Homo sapiens: one gene and its partner. The protein of the gene in region 1 purifies or fractionates together with the protein of each later gene. This does not show direct contact. Each region holds a gene or a part of one and is shown on either strand. Other genes may lie near its edges.

What was found. Proteins that work in one complex are often made in the same cells at the same time.
Region 2: the proteins of ARMH1 (region 1) and ABAT purify together in Homo sapiens (affinity purification with mass spectrometry; 2 studies listed by BioGRID and IntAct, with this or other methods). This does not show direct contact.

The regions. Positions count from the first base shown.
Region 1 is NC_000001.11:44,670,495-44,677,727, forward strand, and holds the start of ARMH1 (armadillo-like helical domain containing protein 1), read left to right. Parts: upstream 1-4,219; 5' UTR 4,220-4,379; intron 4,380-7,233. Other genes in the region: TMEM53 (transmembrane protein 53), read right to left, coding at 3,837-3,897.
Region 2 is NC_000016.10:8,768,613-8,775,638, forward strand, and holds part of ABAT (4-aminobutyrate aminotransferase, mitochondrial isoform 1 precursor), read left to right. Parts: intron 1-212; coding exon 213-361; intron 362-4,167; coding exon 4,168-4,305; intron 4,306-6,277; coding exon 6,278-6,445; intron 6,446-7,026. UniProt on the Homo sapiens protein: Catalyzes the conversion of gamma-aminobutyrate and L-beta-aminoisobutyrate to succinate semialdehyde and methylmalonate semialdehyde, respectively. Can also convert delta-aminovalerate and beta-alanine.

The DNA.
Region 1 (7,233 bases):
TGGGGGTCTGTCAGCCCTCCTGAAGCTTCAGGTCCAGCTTGGGCTGCTCTACTCTAGGAAGCCTCTCCCACCACAGGGCCCACCATGGTGGTCCAGACCCTTCAGCACTGTCTCCTGGGTGTCCGAGACAACTTCCTGAGGGTTAAAATGATGTCTATATTTCTTTGACCTCAGCCAGTGATGAGCAAAAAAGGCATGCGGTAAAACCTGGGGAGCAAAAACCCCCTCACTTCCCCTCTCTGTGATCCCCTTAAGACCTTCTGTTTACTTTAAGAGCAAAATGTTTGTCCCATGACCAGGCCCCAGACTCATTAATTCTATGAATGAATTTTTCTTTATGTTTACTGAACATGAGAGCCACACGGTGCCTTTAAGAAGGTTGCTGGCCTATGAGCAAGTCACAGAGGGGATCTAGGTGGGACTTGGCTGACCATTCTCTGGATGGGAGGAGGGGTGGCACGGCCTGGGCCTGGGATGTCAGAGCAGCTCTGGCTTGGGCCTACAGTGCTGCCAAGTGATTCCATTCAGCTCACTTGGTACATCATCCCTCCCAGGCCCTGGTGACAGTGAGTGAAGCCATCAAAAACACGACAACAGGAAAATATAGTGCTTATGGGAGCCCCAGGAGAGACCCTTCCCAAATGAAATGAAGTAAGAGAGGGTATTGAGAGACTGAGGGGATCACTGGCCTGGGAAAAAGAGAGGGAGGAGGGAAGACAGATTCTGGGTCAAACGACCGGCTTTAGCAAAGGCCTGGGCAGACGACCATCGGTGTGGGCAGCCAATAGGTACTGGCTGGTAGGATTCCCAGCAGAAGGATGTTGGGCTGCCAAGCCTGACCTACAAGGCCCAGGGCTCTGAATGACCCCAGATCTGCAGCTGCCTTCCAGCTAGCTAATGTGCCAGCATCAGCTTCTCTGTCAGCTCACAGCAGTGATGGGCTCTGTGGTTTCGATTTTTCAAATACAGGGGAAAAGTAATTTCAGGCCAGGTGCAGTGGCTCATACCTGTAATCGCAGCACTTTGGGAGGCTGCGATAGGAGGACTGCTTGAGCCCAGAAGTTTCAAACCAGTCTGGGCAATACAGTAAGACTCTGTCTCCATATAAGAAAATGAAAATTTTTTAAACTGAAAAAAAAAAGTGTTTTTAAAGGCTGGGCACAGTGGCTCACGCCTGTAATCCCAGCACTTTGGGAGGCTGAGGCGGGTGGATCACCTGAGGTCAGGAGTTCAAGACCAGCCTAACCAATATGGTGAAACCTTGTCTCTACTAAAACTACAAAAATTAGCCAGGCATGGTGGCGGGTGCCTGTAGTCCCAGCTACTTGGGAGGCTGAAACAGGAGAATTGCTTGAAGCCAGGAGGCGGAGGTTGCAGTGAACTGAGATCGTGCCACTGCACTCCAGCCTGGGCGACAGAGTTAGACTCCACCTCAAAAAAAAAAGTTTTTAAAAAGTAATTTCAGAAACTAAATATGAATGTCCTATACACTTCTCCACCATTAAACAGTAATTGCAAAAGACAGACAATCTCTGGGGCTCCAAAAGACTGTCACTCTATCAGGCCATGTTGGCCTGGAGGGAAGCTCTGCAGATAGGAAGCAAATGGATTCAGGGGACCACAGCGTCGTGATCTCCTTCTGAGGGGTTTGACAACCTCTAGCTCTCCTCTGGAGCATGGACTGTGAGAGGGAAGGGCAATGAATTAAAGCCAGTCAGGAGCAGCAATAAGGAGGAGAAACAACTGAAAGCCGTGGAGGTGTTTCCCTTGGAGGAAATGTGAAGGCACGAAGCTGTCCTCTTGAACAGAGGAAGAGAGATTCCTTGCTCTGTATCGTTCCCACCACAATGCTCTAGCCCTGCAGTTAGCACACCATTTTGAAACCACCTGCTTATAAATTCACTCCCCTCCCCAAAACCTCAGCTCCTTGGGCGTGTGAGTCACTTCTGAGTGGCCAACAACGATCCCACAGCCAGGACACAGCAAATACTGAACTGAGAGCGGAAATTACAGGAAGGCCTATTGTGGCTCAAGAAAGGGAAGTGCTTTCTAACAATCCCAGCTGCCTCCAACAGGCTAGAATGTTTGGGCAGAAGCATCGCCCCAGGGAAGGGTCTGCTAGCAATGGAATGCACTCATGCCAACAGAGGGAGGCAGGACAAAACAGTCTCTGAGATTTCTTCCAATTCTAAGACCCAGCCTCCTGGAGCAGCAAAGGGAGCCATGGGATCCGCCACTGCACTCCGGCCTGGGCGACAGGGGAGACTCCATCTCTTAAAAAAAAAAAAAGAAAGGGGGGCTGAGGGGGAACCACAGGGGAGCAATGCAATGGCAGCACCTGCACTGTGCCAGGGACACACATCCAAACGCTACCTCGTAACCCTCGCAATCCCACGAGGAGGTAGGCACTAGTACTCTTCCCATTTCACAGTGGAGGAATCTCAGGCTCAGGGAGGTTCAATAGCTTGCCAAAGACATATAACTTGTAAGACATGGAGCTGAAATGTGAACCAGGACCACGAGGCTGCCCTCCTGGCCGTGCAGAAGGCAGCTCCAACCCTTTGCAGCCGAAGACTCTCCAAAGGAAATAATATTAACTGACTTCATGGCTTGCTGACGCCAAAACGTGTCCAAAGTATTTTTACATCTATAAACCCAAAAGCGCTAAGCCAGCAGATCCAGTTCTAGGGAAAAACAGCTGGTCTGGGGCCATCTGTTCTGCGGGAGTCTAAGGGCTGCCCTCTCCTAGACTCCAACCAAAGAACATGAGATGCTACGGGAGGGATCTGGGAAGGCTCTCCTTAAGGAGGTAAGTTTTATGGAGAGCAGAGTATAAGATCAAACCTTTGCATTAGAAAGATCACTGTGGTAGCAGTTTAAGAGGCTGGGCTGCAGGCAGTGAGACAGGAGGCGTGAAGGCGATGCTGGACTAATGCAAGTGAGGGACACGCTGGCCTCAGGCTGATCATACTTCAAGGCCCTTCTGCCAGAATTCCCAGAGAGACCAAACTTTCCACTCTCTGGACCCCGATCTACTCACACTGTCATGGATGCGGGCCTGCTGTCAATCCTAATTTTGTGGAGAATCCTACATGTCTTTCTTTAATGTAAGGAGAGAAACAATGCTGATCGTAAATGCCAATTACTGAACTCACTCCATGCCAGGCCCTTTACACAATCTCCAGATGGCCCCAACAGCCCTATGAGGAAGGTTACTATCCTTATCCCGGTTTTGCAGAGGAGGAAACTGAAGTTCAGAGAAGGTAGCTTACCAAAGGTAATCCAGCTCCTAAAGGAAGGAGTCAGGATTTCAGTCGAGTTCTACCCGACGGCAGAGACTGCACTGTTAACCACTGCCGAGAAGAGTGGAGAGGGACGGCTAAGGGTTCTGAGTCCCGGGCTTCTGCGAGGATCGGTGACCCCGCGAGCCTCCCCCTCCACGCCTTCGGGAAAATAATAAGTGATAGGCTAGATGTGGGAAGCCCAATCCCAAACAAAGGAATCAGGAGGGATCCAGCTTTCGGCAGCCTTCAGCTATGAGAAGTGATTAAAGGGCATGGACCTGAGCACCCCGGACAGGAAAGACAGAAAAAGAGGTCCCAAGCGAGCAGCTGACTCGGGCAGAGGCGGGGCTCGCCAGGGAGGAACACTCTGGGGCGGGACTTACGAGGGGCGGGGCTCTCTGAGCCTCTCTAAGTCTAGGACCTGCCAGACCCTATGAGGGGGCGGCCCGAGGGAGGGCGGGGCCGCATGAGGGGCGGGGCTACAGCTGCGCTCGCAACCCACAGGTTCATGAGGTCACCTCCCCGCGCCTGGACCCAACCCTCATTCCATACTCTGGCTCCAGCAGGGCTGATCCGGGATCTCGATGGTGTAGTCCAGCTCTGCCGAGGCCATGGTGAAGGCGCCGGCCCAGAGCACGGGTCTCCAGCCGGAACTCCCGCTTGCGCACCCGTGCCTCACCCGGGCGCCTCCTGGGCGCCGCCCAATCACCACACACCTCCCCCAACACGGCCCAATCCCTGCGCCGCGCTCTGTGACCTCCCGCCTTAGCAACCACCGAGTCTCTTCCAGAGCCTCTCGCCTCACCCCACTAGCTCGGCCCTAGCAACCATGCCCCGCCCCTATTACTGACCCGCAGCCATTGGCTAATTCGCTTGATCTGGATCAGGTATTGGTCAGCCGGGGCGCCGGTCAGGAAGAGTCCCCACCCTCTCATGTAGGTGAGAGGCGGCTGAAGAGTTGCTGTATTCTGGGAATGGGCAGGGTCACTCGTCCGAACAGAGTCCTATCCTACGCGGCGGAAGAGTGTGCCCTTTGACTTGCATCGTCTACCTACCTCTGCCATCCTCTACCAGCCGCAACTGCGAGGGCTGGAGGTATAAAACCGTACAAAACGGCCTAGGGGGCGCGTGCCGACCCAACCTCCACCCAGTGGGGTTGAGGCATATTCTGGATGGATGGATGGATGGATGGATGGATGGGTGGATGGGAAGCAGTCTTCAGTTGATGACTTTAGAGAATGCCCTGTTGATAGGGCCCACCGAGGAGCTGGGAGTGCAACTTTCTTGCATTTATCTATATTTACATACTATGTGCCAGCATATTTACATACTATGTGCCAGAGACTGGGTGGGCTAAATAAGGTTCCTTAGGCCCTAGTGAGAATCAAGCTTTTGGCCCTCCCTCTCCCATGTCTTAACGGGAGAGGGAGAGAAACCATGCATGAAGCAACTCTGATTCTGCGTGTGAGATAAATACTACAGAAGAGTAAGGATTTGAGGAGCTCAGAATCAGAGAAGGGGCATTTATGGCAGTGGGGTTGGCTCTTGAGCTGGGCCTTGAAAGACTTTTAGAGATAGGGAGGGGGAAAGACTCTTTGCATGCCAGGCGCGGTGGCTCAAACTCGTAATCCCAGCACTTTGGAAGGCCAAGACGGGAGAATGGCTTGAAGGAGTTCAAGACCAGCCTGGGCAACATAGTGAGACCTTCATCTCTACAAAATTAAAATTTTAAAAATTAGCCAGGCATGGTAGCGCATGCCTGAAGTCCCAGCTACTTGGAAAGCTGAGGTGGGAGGATCACTTGAGTCAGGAGGTCAAAGCTGCAGTAAGCCATGATTGTGCCACTGCACTCCAGCCTGGGTGACAGAGTGAGACCCTGTCTCAAAAAACAAAACAAAGAGCCCAGTGTGGTGTCTCACCCCTGTAATCCCAGCACTTTGGGAGGCTGAGGCGGGCGTATCACTTCAGGTCAGGAGTTCGAGACCAGCCTGGCCAACATGGCGAAACCCCATCTCTACTAAAAATACAAAAATTAGCCGGGCATGGTGGTGCACACCTGTAATCCCAGCTACTTGGGAGGCTGAGGCAGGAGAATGGCTTGAACCTGGGAGGTAGAGGTGGCAGTGAGCCGAGATTGCTCCACTGCACTCCAGCCTGGGTGACAGAGCGCGACTCTGTCTCAAAAAAAAAGAAACATTAGTGCAGGAACTGGATTGAGGATTGGGAGAAGGAGGGAGACCAGTTAGGAGGTTGTTTCAGTAGTGGGGAAGGATTATGGTGGCACAAAGCATGGAGTGGCAGCTGAAATGGAAAGGGCAGGATGAATTCCTTAGACACTTATAGCTAGAAAAAAATGGACTTGGTTACTAATTGGGTGTGGGGGAAGTAAGGGAAATGAAGGATGACTTCTAGATTCCTGGTTTGGGCAAACAGGAAGGAGAGGAAGCAGGGGTTTTTAGGAGAGGGTCAGTTCTGGGCACGGTGAGCTTGGGGTGCCAATGGAACATCCAAGTGGAGGTATCCAGAAGGCCATTGGATATGCCTAACTGGAGTTCGCCAGATAAGTCTAACTGGAAGTTGCAGTGTGGGAGTCTATGGGGCCTTATAGATGCCAGCCACACCAATAGATTTGTTGAGCTTGCCCAGGGAGTAAGTGTAGAGTCAGAAGAGACCTAGGACAGAGCCCTGAGAAACACCCAAGTTTGAGGGTCTGGCAAAGGAGGACGAACCTGCAAAGGTAATCAAGATGAAGTGTCCAAAATGGTAAGAAGATCAGTAGTAGTATGTGGTGTTTCAGAAGCCAAGGAAGGAAAGTGTTGAAGGCTTATGACTAATCAAGTAAAATAAGGCCTGAAAGAATCCACTGGATTTAGAAACAAGGAAGTTGTTGGTGACCTTTACAAGTGCAGTTTCAGTGGAGTGATGGGAGCAGAGGTCAAATTACAGTGGTTTGAGAAGCAGATGGGATTGAGGAAGTGAAGATTCATGTAAGATACATTTTCAGAAAGCTTGGCTATTTAGGAGAAGAAAAAAGAAGGCAATATCCAGCAGGAAACACAGGTTTTTATTCGGATGGAAGAAATGTTGATGTGGATCCAGCAAAGGGGAAAAAGATAAAACTATAAGGGAAAGAAGATAACTGAGAATGGTGCCCTTGAAAAAAAGACTTCACCAAAGTGTTGGTGAAGAAATTCACTTAGAAGGGTGGAGGAACATTTGTTTTGTGGCAGAAGGGAAGCATTACGTTGAGGTTAATTGGTGGGTTTGGTGACAGGAAGCTGAGGGAATTCTTCGATGGTTTCCATTTTCTCTGTCAAATAAGAACATTATATCAGCCAGTGAGAGTGGGATTGGAGATGGTGTGCGAGATTGAAAAGAGCAGAGAAAGATTAAAATAGCAGCACTGGAGAGTGGCAGTGAGATGACTAAGGTAGCAAACAGATTTCTGGGCAGTTATCATGGCCCTGTCGAGGTTAGTGACCATTAATTTTCGGAAGCAGCAGTCTGCAAGGTTGTGTAATATGCATTTTTCCCTCAACAACATTCAGCCACCTAGTGGTGGGTACACAGAGGTTAGTTTAATTGATCTAGGTTTGGGTTTTACCAGGCGGATACAATGGAAGGACAAAGGACAAGGAAGTTGAAGATTGTGGCAAAACAGTGATTGAAATGAAGGGCCTTAGTATCTAAACTGGATAGGAGAGTGAAAAAAAATGTATGGACTAGAGGTCCCAGTGAAGTCAGAGAATCCACATCTGAGATCATTGAATGAGGGAGTTGTGATCAGAAAGTGGAAGAATGAAGTTTGAGTAGTTTCCGGTGATGACAAGGTCCACTGTGTGGCCGTGGGAGTCAGTGACCAAAGTGGAGTACAGGAGACAGTCAGGATGCTGATGTGGCCACTGAACTCCCCCTGGATGATAGAAAGACTTGAGGGGAGGGAAGGGAA
Region 2 (7,026 bases), on another chromosome or scaffold:
CAAAACATCTCATGTACTCCCCAAGTATATACACCTCCTATGCACCCAGAAAAATTAAAAATTAAACGATAAAAAGAACTGGGGTTTCACAGGCAACAGGCCTCCCTGCCCACTGACAGCCTTGCGCTGAAATGTCTATCATCTCCTTTACAAAGACGGTACTGCCTGCTTCCCCAAGCCAAGCGTCTGCTTTTCTGTTTTGCTGAACTCAGGTTGCTTAGCGACCACGCACTCTAAAGCCATTCACAAGATCGACATCCCTTCCTTTGACTGGCCCATCGCACCGTTCCCACGGCTGAAATACCCTCTGGAAGAGTTTGTGAAAGAGAACCAACAGGAGGAGGCCCGCTGTCTGGAAGAGGTAATGCTCATACCCTGCGGATCCTCCCCAACCACCAGTCCTGTTGCTCTTGCCGCCCCAAGACTTGGGGAGAAGAGAAACAGATGAAGGGTTTATCTGGGGATCTGTGCAGTGCTCCCCCAGAGGGAAGCAGGGACACAGAGGCCTTGCGTCCCAAATGTTCTATGTTGGGAGAGTTCGTGAGACACACTGTTTCTGTCACAGCATCCATCACCCAACTCTGATACCAATTTCTGTATCACTTAAGTTTCTTGGAAGACAAGAGTCAATGACTCTAAAATAAGAGAAAACAGATCAGTTGAAAGAATATGGGGCTGGGCACGGTGGCTCCGCCTGTAATCCCAGCACTTTGGGAGGCTGAGACGGGAGGATCACCTGAGGCCAGGAGTTCGAGACCAGCCTGGCCAACATGGTGAAACCCCATCTCTACTAAAAATTAGCTGGGTGTGGTGGCACATGCCTGTAATCCCAGCTACTAGGGAGGCTGAGGCACAAGAATCCCTTGGACCCGGGAGGCAGAGGTTGCAATGAGCCAAGATTGCACCACTGCACTCCAGCCTGGGTAACGGAGTGAGACTCTGTCCAAAAAAAAAAAAAAAAAAAAAAGAGAGAGAGAGAAAGAAAGAATATGGGATATCCCACAGGAAAAAATGGTTCCACAAGATCCTCTAAACCACTGGTTTTGTCTTCTCCTGAGTCTTGGGGCTTTGAGTTGCTGTGGGTCGGGGGATGCTATGGGAGAGGCTGAGGACAGGCAGCACCCCCCTACCCCCCGTTTCCACGTCATCTAACACAGCCCTCTTTAGATCCACTCAGTATATGGGGGTTCCAGGGAAGACATTGGAAGTAATCTGCAGCTGGAAAAAAATATCACTGTTTGGGTATAGATTTGAACTCAAATAAGGCTGCTGGTTTTTTTCTTAGGCACATCATCATTTTCAATCAGTTCATATTTATTGAGCACCTACTAGATGTCAAGCAAGGTGCTAGGTGCTGGGTATTCAGTGGTAAATAGAAAAGACAAGATAATGGCATCAAGTACAGCACTGTCCAATAGAAATATAATGCAAGCCACATATGTAATTATAGCTTTTCCAGTAGTCACCTTTTCTTTCATTTTTACACCCTGCCTGGAAACTGCCAAGGAGTCACATTTGCTTTGTTTTGTTTTGCTTTGTTTTTGAGATGGAGTCTAGCTCTGTTGCCCAGGCTGGAGTGCAGTGGCGCGATCTCAGCTCACTGCAAGCTCCGCCTCCTGGGTTCATGCCATTTTCCTGCCTCAGCTTCCTGAGTAGCTGGGACTACAGGCGCTTGACACCACACCCGGCTAATTTTTTGTATTTTTAATAGAGACAGGGTTTCACCGTGTTAGCCAGGATGGTCTCGATCTCCTGACCTTGTGATCCGCCCGCCTCGGCCTCCCAAAGTGCTGGGATTACAGGTGTGAGCCACCGCGCCGGCCTTCTTTTCTTTTGTTTTGTTTGAGACAGGGTCTCACTCTGTCACCCAGGCTGGAGTGCAGTGGTGCAATCACAGCTCACTGCAGTCTCGACCTCTCTGGGCTCAGGTGATCCTCCCACCTCAGCTTCTTGAGTAGTTGGAACTAAGGCACATGACACCACCACACCTGGCTAATTTTTGTATTTTTTGCAGAAACAGGTTTTGCCGTGTTGCCCAGGTTGGTCTCAAACTCCTGGGCCCAAGTGGTCTGCCCACTTCGGCTTCCCAAATTGCTGGGATTACAGGTGTGAGCCACCGTGCGTGGCCAGGAGTCACGTTTTTTAAAATTACAAAGAAATAGGTGAAATTCATTTTCAGAGCATTTTATTGAACCGAATATATTCAAAATATTATCACGTAAATGTGTAATTAGTATTTTTAAACAATGTGATTTTTATATTCCTTTTTAAAAATTCCTTTATTTTAAAAATTCATTTATTTAGGTCTAAACAAACTAAGATAGTCCTTTTCTTCGTATTCAGTTTTTGAAACACTGTGTGTATTTTACACTTACAGCACAATGCTCTAAAAACAAAGAAAAACCGGGCGCGGTGGCTCATGCCTGTAACTGCGACACTTTGGGAGGTTGAGGCGGGCAGATCACCTGAGGTCAGGAGTTCAAGAGCAGCCTGACTAACATGGAGAAACCCCATCTCTACTAAAAATACAAAATTAGCCGGGCATGGTGGTGCATGCCTGTAATCCCAGCTACTCCAGAGGCCGAAGCAGGAGAATCACTTGAACCCGGGAGGTGGTGGTTGCGGTGAGCTGAGATTGCGCTATTGCACTCCAGCCTGGGCAACAAGAGTAAAACTCCATCTCAAAAAAAAAAAAAAGAAAACCAAGAAAAGTATCTCAGAGCTTCCTTGGGGTGACTGGTGGAGACCAAGGTCAAAATCATATCACCCAAACAGAGGCTTTTTCTTAATTGTACATAATAAAGAAAGCTTTCACTTGTTAGTCTATCTAGGTGTACGGTTTAGGGTTTTTCTTTCTTTTTTTTTTTTTTTTGAGACAGAGTTTCACTCTCTTGCCCAGGCTGGGGTGCAGTGGCACGATATCTCGGCTCATTGCAACTTCTACCTCCTGGGTTCAAGCGATTCTCGTGCCTCAGCCACTGGAGTAGCTGGGAGTACAGGCGTGAGCCACCATGCCCAACTAATTTTTGTATTTTTAGTAGAGATGGGGTTTCACCATGGTAGCCAGGCTGGTCTGGAACTCCTGACCTCAGGTGATCTGCTCGCCTTAGCCTCCCAAAGTGCTAGGATTACAGGTGTGAGCCACCATGCCCAGCCTCTTTCTTTTTAACAAAGACAGGATCTTGCTGTGTTGCACAGGCTGGAGTGCAGTGGTGTGGTCATAGCTCACTGCGATCTCACAGTCCTGGTTCAAGGGGTCCTCCCACCTCAGCCTCTCAAGTAGCTGAGACTACAGGCACGCAGCCACCATGCCCAGCTAATTTCTAAATGTTTTGCAGACATGAACCGCGCTATGTTGCACAGGCTGGTCTCAAACTCCTGGCCTCAAGGTATCCTCCTGCCTCAGCCACCCAAAGTGCTGGGATTGCAGGTGTGAGCCACCACACCTGGCCCTTAGAACAGTTTTTTAACCGAGGATATATCTCCGATTCTGCCCCAAAAGGATTCTCACACCAATCATAGCAATAATACTGTAAGAATAGGAACAATAATAATCAATAATAATATAGTCGTGCTAATCGTAATAGTAGCAGCCACCACTTTATGTGTGCCAGACTCTGCTGTATTTTCTCTCTGTCTCTGTGTGTGTGTGTGTGTGTGTGTGTGTGTGTGTGTGTGTGTGTGTGTGTGTGAATGCTCTCACCTTTATTTCTCTCAATATACCCGTGATGTAGCTATTTCCCACATAACAAGGTTAAGTGACAGGTGCATGTTCCATGTAAAACAGAGGCAGAACCACAGCTAAAACATCTGGCCCAGCAATCAACTCATAGTGCTATATTTTCTCATTCAGTCCTCTCCACGACCCTGGAAGGTGGATTCTGTCAGTGTGCCCATACAACACATCAGGAAAGTGAGGCTTCTGAAGCTAAATTACTTGCCCCAATTTATTAGTTTGTATCCACCCAGGTGCTAGCACCGATTTCAAGTAGGATACATTCCCATCCACACACATAGCTTCTAACAGAGGCTTCACTGGTCTTAGGAAATGCACACAAACACATTTCCAATAAAATTGCATGGGGCTCATCGAACCCCAGATTCCCACCCACGGATACTGGTCACAAGCCTCTGCCATCGGTGGTCACTTTCCCCTTTGGGATCCAGGTGGAGGATCTGATTGTGAAATATCGGAAAAAGAAGAAGACGGTGGCCGGGATCATCGTGGAGCCCATCCAGTCCGAGGGTGGAGACAACCACGCATCCGATGACTTCTTTCGGAAGCTGAGAGACATCGCCAGGAAGGTCAGTGGACAGGGCCGAGGTTGGATGGAGCCATTGGGTTTTCTGGGTTGAGTTCCCCGAGTAACGGGCCAGCAGCACCTCTGCCTTGGAGCTTCTGTCAATCTCCAGACTTGCAGAGGCTGTCTGTCAGCATCAGGGGTGGAGAAGTTGGGGTTGGTGAAAGAATGGGGATTCTTCCCTAAAACTATACACACACACACACACACACACACACACACACACACACACACATATATATATATTTTTTTTTTTGAGACAGAGTCTCACTCTGTTACCCAGGCTGGAGTGCAGTGGTGCAATCTCAGCTCACTGCAACCCCTACCTCCCAGGTTCAAGTGATTCTCCTACCTCAGCCTCCCGAGTAGCTGGGACTACAGGCACACGTCACCATACCCAACTAATTTTTGTATTTCTAACAGAGACGAGATTTCGCCATGTTGGCCAGGCTGGTCTTGAACTCCTGACCTCAGGTGATCTGCACACCTCAGCCTCCCAAAGTGCTGGGATTACAGGCCTGAGCCACCACACTTGGCCTTAAAATCTTTTTAAAAAACCTTTTTGGATACATAATAGTTGCAGTGCGTAATGATCAAATCTGGGTAATTGGATATCCATCACCTAAAATATTTATCATCTCTTTGTATTGGGAATATTCCAAATCCACTCCTATTTTGAACTATGCAATAAATTATTAACTAAAATCACCCTATTGTGCTACTGGACACTAGATCTTATTCTTCTATCTAACTGTACTTTTGTATCCATTAACCAACCCCTATTTATCTCCACCTCCCCATTAGCCTTGCCAGCCTCTGATAGGCGTCATTCGACTCTATTTCTTCATAAGGGAAGTGTTTTTAGTTCCCACCTGAGTGAGAACATGCAATATTTGTGTATGTGTGGCTTATGTCACTTAACATAATGTCCTGTAGTTCCATCCACGTCATTGCTAATGACATAATTTCATTCTTTTTATGGCTGAATAGTATTTCTTTGTGTATATGTACCATATTTTCTTTTTCTTTTTTTTTGAGACAGTCTCACTCTGTTGCCCAGGCTGGAGTGCAGTGGCACGATCTTGGCTCACTGTAACCTCTGCCTCCTGGGTCCAAGTGATTCTCCTGCCTCAGTCTCCCAAGTAGCTGAGATTACAGGTGCACGACACCATGCCCAGCTAATTTTTGTATTTTCAGTAGAGACGGGGTTTCGCCATGTTGGCCAGGCTGATTGGCTCAGACTCCTGGCCTTGGGTGATTTGCCCGCCTCAGCCTCCCAAAGTGCTGGAATTACAGGTGAGAGCCACCGCGCCTTGCCGAGTGTGTATATGTACCATATTTACTTTATCCATTCATCCATCGATGGACAGATTGATTCTGTATCTCGGCTATTGTGAACAGTGCTGCAATAAACATGGGAGTGCAGGTATCTCTTTGACACACTGATTTGCTTTCTTTATATTGTGTGTTTGTTTTAATGTCTTGTGCATATATAACTGGCAATCAAACCGATAAGTTCACAGATAAAAGTTATAAGACGTGAGTTGACTTAACACAGATGCTGAGTTAGAAATAGCCTTGGTGACAAGCAGAACATGGCAGCTGAAGTTTGAGAAGCACATTCGAGGCCTCACTGTTGGACACAGCTCCCTCTGACGAGGTCGAGACCCGAGACTGAAGCCAGATGACATACCGCTCTGTGTTGGTGCAGGGAGTATTTAATGTTCTGGGTTTTTTTGGTCCAGCTTAGCAGTTTTAGGAAACACTCAGATTCAGCTCTGGTTGGAACTGCTCAGCTTAAGTGTTTTGATTAGTTTTTTTTGTGCACAGCTCAAGAACATGGGGCTGGTTTGCTCTTCAGAAAACAAGCACGATGTGTGTGGACCCAGGGTTTGGCAGTTAGCTGGCTATGGAGGGCATGAATTTCTGGCCTCCCACGGGTGTTTATTTCTCCCTCCTCTCTCTTCTCCGGCCAGCATGGCTGCGCCTTCTTGGTGGACGAGGTCCAGACCGGAGGAGGCTGCACGGGCAAGTTCTGGGCCCATGAGCACTGGGGCCTGGATGACCCAGCAGACGTGATGACCTTCAGCAAGAAGATGATGACTGGGGGCTTCTTCCACAAGGAGGAGTTCAGGCCTAATGCTGTGAGTTGGAGCCAACCTTCTCTCTACATCCAGGGCAGAGAAGGGAGCATCCTCTTCTCCTAACTGTTCCTTTCTCACCATCGAGGAGCTGGGTGGGCACTTACTGGGTCGCAGGTTTTCTAAGTCCCAGTTCTTATCAATGCAATTAGCAGTGGTGTGCCCTCCCAGCTCTCTCTGTAAGGCCAACTCTGGAACAGTCCACCATCAGCCTTTTCCTGTTTTCTCTCTGTGTGCACACACAATAATATCATCGACAGCTGCCGCAGCAGACTGAGCATTTGCTATGTGCCTAGTTCTAAGTATTTCTCATATACTTTTAATCCTGAGAACAATCTAACCAAGTAGCTGTTATTTTTATCCTCATTTGACTAATGAGGAATCAGGCACAGAGAGGTTAAGTAATTTGTCAAAGGTCACACAGCCTGTTAAGTGACAAAGCCAGGATTCCAACCCAGAGCCCATACTCTTACCCACTACACTGTGTACTGCCATGTGTGCATACAGATTTACACACACACACACACACAGCCATCAGGGGCCAACGTCCTTTCACCATTCCTACATGTAGTTTCTACCCTCAA